Homo sapiens: one gene and its partners. The protein of the gene in region 1 purifies or fractionates together with the protein of each later gene. This does not show direct contact. Each region holds a gene or a part of one and is shown in the gene's direction. Other genes may lie near its edges.

Evidence for each region.
Region 2: the proteins of FRAS1 (region 1) and ZNF74 purify together in Homo sapiens (co-immunoprecipitation; one large-scale study listed by IntAct). This does not show direct contact.
Region 3: the proteins of FRAS1 (region 1) and EMID1 purify together in Homo sapiens (co-immunoprecipitation; one large-scale study listed by IntAct). This does not show direct contact.

Annotation. Positions count from the first base shown.
Region 1 is NC_000004.12:78,060,122-78,063,855, forward strand, and holds part of FRAS1 (extracellular matrix organizing protein FRAS1 isoform 1 precursor), read left to right. Parts: intron 1-3,734. UniProt on the Homo sapiens protein: Involved in extracellular matrix organization. Required for the regulation of epidermal-basement membrane adhesion responsible for proper organogenesis during embryonic development. Involved in brain organization and function.
Region 2 is NC_000022.11:20,406,553-20,408,955, forward strand, and holds the end of ZNF74 (zinc finger protein 74), read left to right. Parts: coding exon 1-416; 3' UTR 417-1,903; downstream 1,904-2,403. UniProt on the Homo sapiens protein: May play a role in RNA metabolism.
Region 3 is NC_000022.11:29,229,662-29,233,395, forward strand, and holds part of EMID1 (EMI domain-containing protein 1 isoform 1 precursor), read left to right. Parts: intron 1-1,358; coding exon 1,359-1,479; intron 1,480-1,620; exon of another isoform or gene 1,621-1,655; coding exon of another isoform or gene 1,656-1,704; intron 1,705-1,796; coding exon of another isoform or gene 1,797-1,847; intron 1,848-1,931; coding exon 1,932-2,021; intron 2,022-2,594; coding exon 2,595-2,741; intron 2,742-2,905; exon of another isoform or gene 2,906-3,102; intron 3,103-3,717; coding exon 3,718-3,734.

The DNA of each region.
Region 1 (3,734 bases):
CTCTTTGCTAAGCACTTTACATACTTTATCTCATTTAATTAGTTTAATTAAGTGATATCACTCCCACAGACAAAAAAACATTTGTCATCTGATGAGACCTCTGGTTTGGTCCTCTCAAGGTTTTCTTTTTCTTTAAAAAATAAGAGCATTGAGATCAAGGTTGGAAACCTCAAGGATCTTAGAAATCTCCTCAAGTTTTTATTATCAGCCTAGAGAATAATTTTTAAAAATAGAAAAGAGACATTCACATGTATACTTCTTTTGATGGGATGTACCTTGTGACACCTTTGCTGACCAGCTTATGGCAGAATTTGTCGTTTTCTTCTCAGTGCACAGAGAGAACAATTGTGGTTGGTATGGGTTTGGTCTTCCTCACTTAGCTGTGTGCTTATTGAGGGGTTAGGATGGCTCCTATTAATTCTGATATCTTCAGTTCAGCTCCTAGTATACACTAAGTGCTCAAAAAATTGGTCAGATGAACAGTATTGCCAAATTATATTATTTTGAATTAAGCTTAACTGGTGGACTGGCCTCTGATTAGCTCACTAACCTTGAATGAACCATCTAACCTCTTTGCGCTATAGTTCTGTCATTTACTAAATGAGGTACATTACGTGATAGCTCTAAGATACTTTGGCTAATCATCAAACATAGAAGAAAAAGAGATCAGTATTTGCTGCATTATTAGTGGTCAATTGCAATTTTCTGGTTCTAAATTTTATTATTTTTATTATTTTTTTTTTGAGGCACAGTCTTGCTCTATCACCCAGGCTAGAGTGCAGTGGTGCAATCTCAGCTCATTGCTGCCTCTGCCCCCTGGCCTCAAGCGATTCTCATGTCTCACCCTCCTGAGTAGCTGGGATTACAGATGTGCGCCACCATGCCCAGCCAATTTTCACATTTTTAGTAGAGACAGAGTTTCACCATGTTGGCCAGGCTGGTCTTGAACTGCTGACCTCAAGTGAACTGCCTGCCTTGGCCTTTTAAAGTGCTAGGATTACAGGTGTGAGCCACTGTGCCTGGCCTCTAAATTTTATCAAAAGAAATATCAAAAGAAAAATAAATTTTTACAAGCAAATTATTGGCAGTGTTATTTTATATGGCCTTATATTGCTAAACTGGTAAAGTATTAATGCTATGACTTGAGAACTTAATAAAATCAAGAAGTCACAAAGAAGCTTCTAACATGGCTGCTTTCTGAATCACAGAAACTCTACCATGGCTTTTTCTGGAGAAATATCTTGAGTTCTGTTGACATATGGAAGTCCTGTGAAGTTACAGTAGATAAGACAGTTGCCTTGGGATAGGGAAACATCATTGAATTGGAGGTTAAGAGAATTGAGCTTTAGTCTGTGTCCCATCACTCTCCATGTGATTTTAGCCATTCCCACAAACGCTGAATCCCGGGTTTTTCCTATAAATGCTATTTAACAGGTTACATTGAAGAGGCTCATTTGATAGACAATATGTTTTATTTATGGGTGAGTTAGGGTAGTTGCACTCTGGGCTGCAGAGTTGTTTCACTGAGAGACTCTATGCTTGAAACTCAATAACTCAATGTTGGGAAGAGAAGAACTTGGCTGGAAAAAAGTAACCTAATTCTTTTATTCTGCAAGCCTTTATTGAGAGGTTCTGTGTCAGGTTATGTCCAGTAGGTGGGTACAGACATCAAAACCAAAGCCAAAAAAACCTCCTGCGCTCAAGGAGTTTGCATATCTAGAAATCATTAATGTCAGTTGAATAGCAGTAGGGATATGGGAACATTTGGTCCTTGGTGGGTTTCTCAGTATGGAAACGTTAGATGATGGTTGTAACTTTGCATCCTTTGGCTTTTGTAATTACCTGGCAATGGAAATAAAGAGGTGTTGTTGTGGACTCTTATTTTCATCAATTATATTTCCATTGCCCTCTGAAGATTGGATTCTGGGCATTACTCTCCTTATATAGTGTACATCCTTTAGTAAGGACCCAGCCATCCGTATTCACTGTTATGGACTTGGGTGGCAATGTCACCCAACTGTACTCACACAAGTAGTCATAAAATATTCTTTAACACATGGCTCAGAGTAGGGGAGGGGACTACCACATGTCAAAGTTGGAGCCTCATGCCAAATCTTACCGTAGTTCCAAAACAGTTGGCCCACTTTCATTTTAACTACTCTATTAATTGATCTAAATCCTAGTTGACAATAATCAGGACATGAGCTGTCCTGTCAGTTCAGAAAATGATTCTATTTTAAGTATTCCACAGTGCACACAGCCATATGCTGAATTATAACACAACATAAAGCCTGAACATTTAAATGCCAACTTGTGGCTGCTTGTTCCTAATGAGTCATGTTCTTGTGGTACCATGCTCTCCAAATCTTTTTGTATCTTAATGGTTGTATCTGCCACTATTTCTTTGAACTAATGGGTCTGACATTTTGTGGTGCTTGGATTTAACTTCTCTAATTTACTCAGTTTACCAACGGTTTCAGAATATATGCAAATTATATCTCAAAATTTCTCCAAAAATACTAGATTTTATACAGTCATCTCATAAAGGCGTATATTATAATGTGCAAAAGGGATTAAAAACAGACATTTACTTGTTTAAATTTTATGCAGTAACGTTTTTTCTGTGTGACCTGCAAGAAATGAGCCAGCCACACAGTAAAAGAGCAGCTCAGGTCTCAGGATCTGGGCTTCCTTCTTGACACTATAAAATTACTTCACCCTGCAAAACTTTATGCTCTTTCTCACAGGTTGTGAGGTGTTAGAACTTAAATTACCTGGCATCTCAGCTGCATTCTGTGCCTTGAAATTGGCATTGTTCATAGTTAGAGAACTACTCCTGTTGTCTCCGGTTTTTCCTCAGTTTTCCTTTGAGGGAGGCTCATTTCTTCTTCTAGATCAGCACTCTCTCACAGAATTCACCTTGAGCTGGAATTTTCTTTAAAGTTCCCTGCCATAAATATAAACGTCAAATAGACCTGCAATCATTCTTGTACTCCTGAAGAAAAAAAAATAATGAGTCGAGAGATGAATTTTGTTTTCCATATTATGTGAACTGACGGATTAGTGAAAAGACCTCCACTCTGGCTTTCAACCAGAAGCTACACCCAGTACCCATGTCAACAAACCCCTCAACTTCATCTGCTGGTGGGTGTGTGAGAGAAATATGCTTCCTTTGGATGCTGCATCTGGTATTGGGTGATGATAAATGTTTGATAGAACTGGGCATCACACTGGAATGCTTTTTTTCTCAAGAGAGTAGAAATGAGGTTTTGGAAGCTGTGTTAATGGAGGCTCATTCATGCAGCTGCCTTCCAGGTAGAACTGTTCTGTTTTAGGAAAGCTCTCAGAGGGCAAAGCTTATTTCTTTTGGAATTGTACAATACAAAGCAACCCAAATTGAATTAATTCCTTTTCCTAATGATATAATTTTTCAGCAGCTCTACACCATTTTGGCTTGAGTCTCCAGCAGATGCATGGCTTGCCCAGGTATAGATGTGGTGCCACACTCAGTGCTACTTTATTTTTTTCATACTGCAGTGAGTTTATCATGGCTATCTAAACTTCCAAAAATAGGTTTTGATATGGGTACTCAGATACTTCTTAAGGTGCTTGATTTCCTTTGGAGCTTTGAAAAGAAATTGACTTTGGAAGGTAATGCTGTGGAGAGCAATAAAATTATTTGAGGATAGTCTTATTTTAAAGATTAAATTTTGTTTGTGTTTTTTCTAAAAGTT
Region 2 (2,403 bases), on another chromosome or scaffold:
AGGCCTTCAGCTGCCACTCGTCCCTCATCGTGCACCAGCGCATCCACACCGGTGAGAAGCCCTACAAGTGCAGCGAGTGCGGCAGAGCCTTCAGCCAGAACCACTGTCTCATTAAACATCAGAAAATCCACTCCGGGGAGAAGTCGTTTAAGTGTGAGAAATGTGGGGAGATGTTCAACTGGAGCTCGCACCTCACTGAGCACCAGAGGCTGCACAGCGAGGGGAAGCCCTTGGCCATCCAGTTCAACAAACACCTGCTCAGCACATACTACGTGCCTGGCAGCCTGCTGGGTGCAGGGGATGCTGGACTGAGGGACGTGGATCCCATCGACGCGCTGGATGTGGCAAAGCTCTTGTGCGTGGTTCCCCCCAGAGCTGGCAGGAATTTCTCCCTGGGGAGCAAACCTCGAAACTAACATGATGTGCTTTGGTGTCAGTAGCTGCTTTCTGAGCTACTCAACAAGGAAAGCACCCTGGTCCTCCCTGGCTCCTAGATCCAGACCACCTTCCTCCAGGTGTGGGAGCCTTGCCTTATCACCCCCATCAGGTCTGCATGCCAGGGTGCCTCCTCTAGTTAAAGTCAGTCACCTCCCCAGAAGGGCCACACTCCAGGAGGAGTGTTGAGAGTCATTTGAGGTAGTCTTGCCACCTGTTTTCCTTGATGGGCCTGGAAGTTGTTGACAAGGGGAAAGATCTTTCTTGCCAATAAAAAGAAGGGATATCGTTGGGTGCCATGGCTCACACCTGTAATCTTAACACTGTGGGAGGCCAAGGCAAGGGGATCACTTGAGCCCAGGAGTCTAGGACCAGCCTGGACAACATGGTGAGACCTCGTCTCTACAAAAAATGCAAAAATTAGCCAGATGTGGCGGCATGTCCCTGTGGTCCCAGCTACTCAGGAGGCTGAGGTGGGAGGATCATTTGAGCCTAGGAGGTCAAGGCTGCAGTGAGCCATGATTCACAGCACTGCACTGCAGCCTGGGTGACAAAGCAAGACCCTGTGTGAAATTAAAAGGAGGTATATCAACTGTTGTATCCTCGGACGGGCTCCTGACACGGCTTTAATCAGGAGTTTCCTCCATAAACTATTATTTTCAGAATAATAATAAAACAAGAATTATGACTAGCATCACTTTCCAGTGAACATTATTATATTGCTAGAGAGGAGAATAATCTTGGGTGGTGGGCATTTGGAAAAAGTGAATTTCCTGGACTTAACTCATGTAAATAGCTCTACTGCAGAGCTGTGTGTTTAGTGACAGTGCAGTCAGGGGCATTCCCACAGCTGTCACAGCACGGCCCAGCATCATTGTAGCCAGATCCTAACATGCCAACATCACCTCTTGCCATTTAGCCCCTAGTGAGAAATTGGGAGCTACCAGGCAGGTGCCCAGTGCATTCAGGGAAGATGGGCACAACATCAGGATGGGTGTGTCTGGAAGCTCCTCTTCACTGACCAGGGCTGGGCAGGGCCACCCTGGGCTGGTGAGGCTGCCCTGCAGGGCTTCTCACTATGTAGCACCAGTCACCAGCCCAGGTCACAGAAGAAGCCCCTCCCAGCACCCACTGGAGAGGGGAAGCTGAAGCCCAGGGAGACGGGCTCCATGGTGGTCCCACATGGAGCTGTTTTGCAAACCCTGGAAAAGGCGGCTCTCCCTGTCCCAACACTCTTCAGAGACAGGAAGACAGAGTTAATCTTGAATGAATGTTATTTCTACTTAGTCCTAAGCAAGAATAAGCTGCCCTCTTGGTGATCATACTTTATACGGAGTGCTATCGTTTATGAAATGCTTTCAGTATGCTTTTTAAATTATGCAGGCAAAATAACCACACTTCAGAAAATGTGGACTTCTGAAAAATAAAATCCCCATAATTCTTAATAAAACTGCCTTTTGCACTTTGATACATTACCCTCTGCTTTGTTCATGTAGAACTTTGCATTATTTTCAACACAGTGTATCTATAGTTTTTATCTTTTTTCCCTCTTTAGCTTTGTAGCAGATTTTTTTTTCAAGCATCTAAACTGTCCTCGTTATACTTCTTTTTTTTTTAAATTATACTGTAAGTTCTAGGGTACGTATGCACAACGTGCAGGTTAGTTACATATGTATACATGTGTCATGTTGGTGTGCTGCACCCAGTAACTCGTCATTTAACATTAGGTATATCTCCAAATGCTATCCCTCCCGCCTCCCCCCACCCCACAACAGGCCCTGGTGTGTGATGTTCCCCTTCCTGTGTCCATTGTTCAATTCCAACCTATGAGTGAGAACATGCGATATTTGGTTTTTTGTCCTTGCGATAGTGTGCTGAGAATGATGGTTTCCAGCTTCATCCATGTCCTTGTTATACTTCTAAACAGAGGCACAGTGTTCTCTCTGGTCTCTTAGATACTCTTTTGTT
Region 3 (3,734 bases), on another chromosome or scaffold:
AGATGCCCCTGATTTATCAAATGGGAAAACCAAGCTTCCAAATAGCGTGTGCTGGCACCTGAGTTACAAGGCACGGGGTTCCAGGAGCAGTTCCCTGAGCTCCCTCCCAGGAGAAGCCCATGTAAGAGGCAACTCAGTCCCACATCTTGATGGGAATTCCTGGTTCAGGATCTGCCAGAGAGTTTCAGCTTTTCTCTGGACAGGCCCCCACGATCCCTGAGCCCCTGATCTGTGGTCATCTGGCCTTTCGTTGGTCCTCAGCAGCTGAGGGGACACTTCCAGCTTCCCAGAGTCTTCCTCACCATGGGCCCAAAAGTGGACTTTGTGTACACCTCCAGGTTTCTATTTCATGTCAGACTCTTCCAAACTTCCTTCCAAATTTAGTGAAAGGCCGGGAGTGGTGGCTCACGCCTGTAATCCCAACACTTTGGGAGGCTGAGATAAGCAGATCACTTCAGGTCAGGAGTTTGAGACCAGCCTGGCCAATGTGGTCAAACCCCATCTCTACTAAAAATACAAAAATTAGCTAGGTGTGGTGGCGCATGACTGTAATCCCAGTTACTCTGGAGGCTGAGGCAGGAGAATCACTTGAACCCGGGAGGCGGAGGTTGCAGTGAGCCGAGATCGTGCCACTACACTCCAGCCTGGGCAACAGAGCAAGGCTCTCCATCTTGGAAAAAAAAAAAACAAAAAAACAAACTAAGTGAAACTCTTCCAGCCATACCCTGTGGTGCTTTAAGAAATCAAGACAAGCTTCTTATTTGGATAACCATAGAGAAAAAGCACATGGCCCAGCAAGCACCGCGACAGTCACAAAGCTCAACTTTGATGGCAATGATGGTGTCAGTGACTTTTCCATAATGCGTGTTATGAATTGTGTGCTTTGAAAAACACTGTCACTTCTGATGAAGTTCGGTGCCCCTGCGAGCCTGGGGCTCCACTCCAAGCTGGGCCCTGCTGGCCATGTGCCTCCTGCCTCCCACACCAGGCCCCTTGGCTGGCCTGTCCGTGGTGAGACCCTGGCTCATGCCTGTAATCCCAACACTTTGGGAGGCTGAGGCAAGATGATTGCTTGAGCCCAGGAGTTCAAGACCAGCCTGGGCAACATAGCGAGACCTCGTCTCTACAAATAATTTTTTTTTAAATTTGCCATGTGTGGTGGTGCATCCCTGTGGTCCCAGCTACTTGGAAGGCTGAGGCAGAAGGATCGCTTAAGCCCGGGTGGTTGAGGCTGCATGAGCCGTCATAGTACTACTGCATTCTAGCCTGGGCAACAGAGCAAAACTCCATCTCAAAAAAAATAGGGAGGGGTCCTAGTGAGACCCTGGTACCCACCCCGTCCCTGTCTTCCTCTTCAGATGACCATGCTGACTGTCATAGAGCAGCCAGTACCTCCAACACCAGCTACCCCTGAGGACCCTGCCCCGCTCTGGGGTCCCCCTCCTGCCCAGGGCAGCCCCGGAGATGGAGGCCTCCAGGGTGAGTGTCAGACTCAGACTCCCCTGTGGGAATGAGCAGTGGGTTGGGAATCGGGGAAGTGGGATTCTGGTCCCCACCCTGTCGCTGACTCCCAACTTAACCCTCTAGTGGGCCTCAGTCTTCCCATTTCCCGTTTCTTAGACCCGCCTAAGAGGACCGTCTCCTGGGACTCCTGAATGCTGCAGTCCCTGGAGACCAAGCAGCCCCAGCAGACCCTGCCTGGAGGTCGGGGGGAGCTGGGAGTGGGGATTCTGGATGAGCCTCCCTCCTCCAGGCCCAGCAGGGACACTGACCTCTGCCTACCCCCCCCACCCCAGGGCTGCCAGGAGCCATAGAGAGTGTGAGGGTCCCGCTGCTTCCCCGAAATGGTAGATGCTGGTTGGGGGGCTGGGGCCAGGGTGGGGGTCAAGAGCAGATGTGGAGCTGCCAGTCTGATATGCTTTACCCCCCAGACCAAGTCGGTGCTTGGGGGCTTCCCGGGCCCACCGGCCCCAAGGGAGATGCCGGCAGTCGGGGCCCAATGGGGATGAGAGGCCCACCAGGTGAGTGCCCGCAATGCTGCCCCACAGCTCCTCTGGCCATCCCCTCCACCAGGTGGGCCCTTCCCTGCTCCTGACATGGCCAGGATGACCTGGGCCCTTTCATCTACTTGCCTCTTCACTCAGCACCCCACCACGGAGTGCCCTGCCCACGCCTGGGCTCCATGAAGTCCTCTCTTATGTTCACTGACCCACATTCCCTGGGCACCTACACTTATCAGGCTCTGAGCTGGGCACTGGGTGGGGTCAGACATGTCCCTGCCCTTCTGGAGCTTCCATGCTGCTGGGAGCAGGGCTGGGCAGAGGAGAAGCAGCAATGCTTGCCCCATGTGACCAGGGTTTCTATGAGGGGTTTTGGGGGTTTGGGAGCCCCAAGGAAGGAAGACTCAGCCTGGACGAGGTGGAGAACTAGGTGCTGTGCTCATCCCCCTGTTAGACTACCAGGCAGCCTAGGCCTGTGGACTCCGGGGCCCTCTCTCATGCCCACTGCTCCAGGCTGCCTTGTCCTGTCGCTCAAGGCCACCCTGGGCCTCCTTGCCTCCTGTATACCCACAAATCCGTGTGATTCCATTGCAGGTCCACAGGGCCCCCCAGGGAGCCCTGGCCGGGCTGGAGCTGTGGGCACCCCTGGAGAGAGGGGACCTCCTGGGCCACCAGGGCCTCCTGGCCCCCCTGGGCCCCCAGCCCCTGTTGGGCCACCCCATGCCCGGATCTCCCAGCATGGTGAGTCCCCCTGGGATCCCAGCAGGTGGAGGTGGGGGTGGAGTAGCCATCAGCACAGTGCCCGCTACCATCTGCCACGTGCCTTCTGTGTGCCAGCCCTGCTCACGATAGGCCACATGTGACCCAGTCCTCCAGCAGGCGCCGTTGTCCTCCTGTGGTTACAGGTGAGGAACACTGAGGACCAGAGAGGGAAGGTGGCTTGCCAGGGTCCCACAGCCTGGGCGTAGGGGAACGGCTTCAAACCCAGGCTGCCTCCAGAACCTGTGCTTAGAGCCACCGGGCATCAGGCCCTCCCAAGCCTTGGAACTGGCTGGAATCCAGTTCTCGGAACACTGGGACGCAAAAGACCCGGCGGCAGGAAGTGAGTCCTGAACTCCCAAGGCCACAGGCCCGGCCCCTCCTCCAGGCCCTGACGTGCGTCCTTGGCTTCTTCCCTTTGGCAGCCCAGCCTGACCTGCCCATGGGCTGCCAGGGGTCAGAGTGTGGAGCGCCAGGTTTCAGCCTCTTCTCCACTGTGTTTTTGGTGCACAACCCAGCACACCATTCATTCATTCTGCCATCCCAGCATTCATTCCATCTCACTATCCATACGATGGGGACAATGACAGTGCCAGCCTCCCAGAGCTGCGTAACATCCATGTACAGAAGCCTGGCACACAGTAGGTGGTGGATAAATGGTATCTTTTATTGTCATTCCCATTTGACAGGTGACAGTACAGGCTCTGAAAAGTAGAAAGTGTTGCTGGATGTCACCAGCTGGATTGCAGTGGGGTTAGAACCCACATCTCCCTGCCTCCTGGTCTTGCGGGACCAACACTCTCCACACTCCTCACCCTGGAGCAGGTGCCCAGGTGGTACCAGCCATGCTGCAGGCTGCCCCATAGGGCAGTCCAAGCTGTCTTGGCAGAGGTGGCAGGTGAAGACTAACCACCCCACTCTACCCAGCTCTACTCACTCATCATCTTTGCTCACCCAGGAGACCCATTGCTGTCC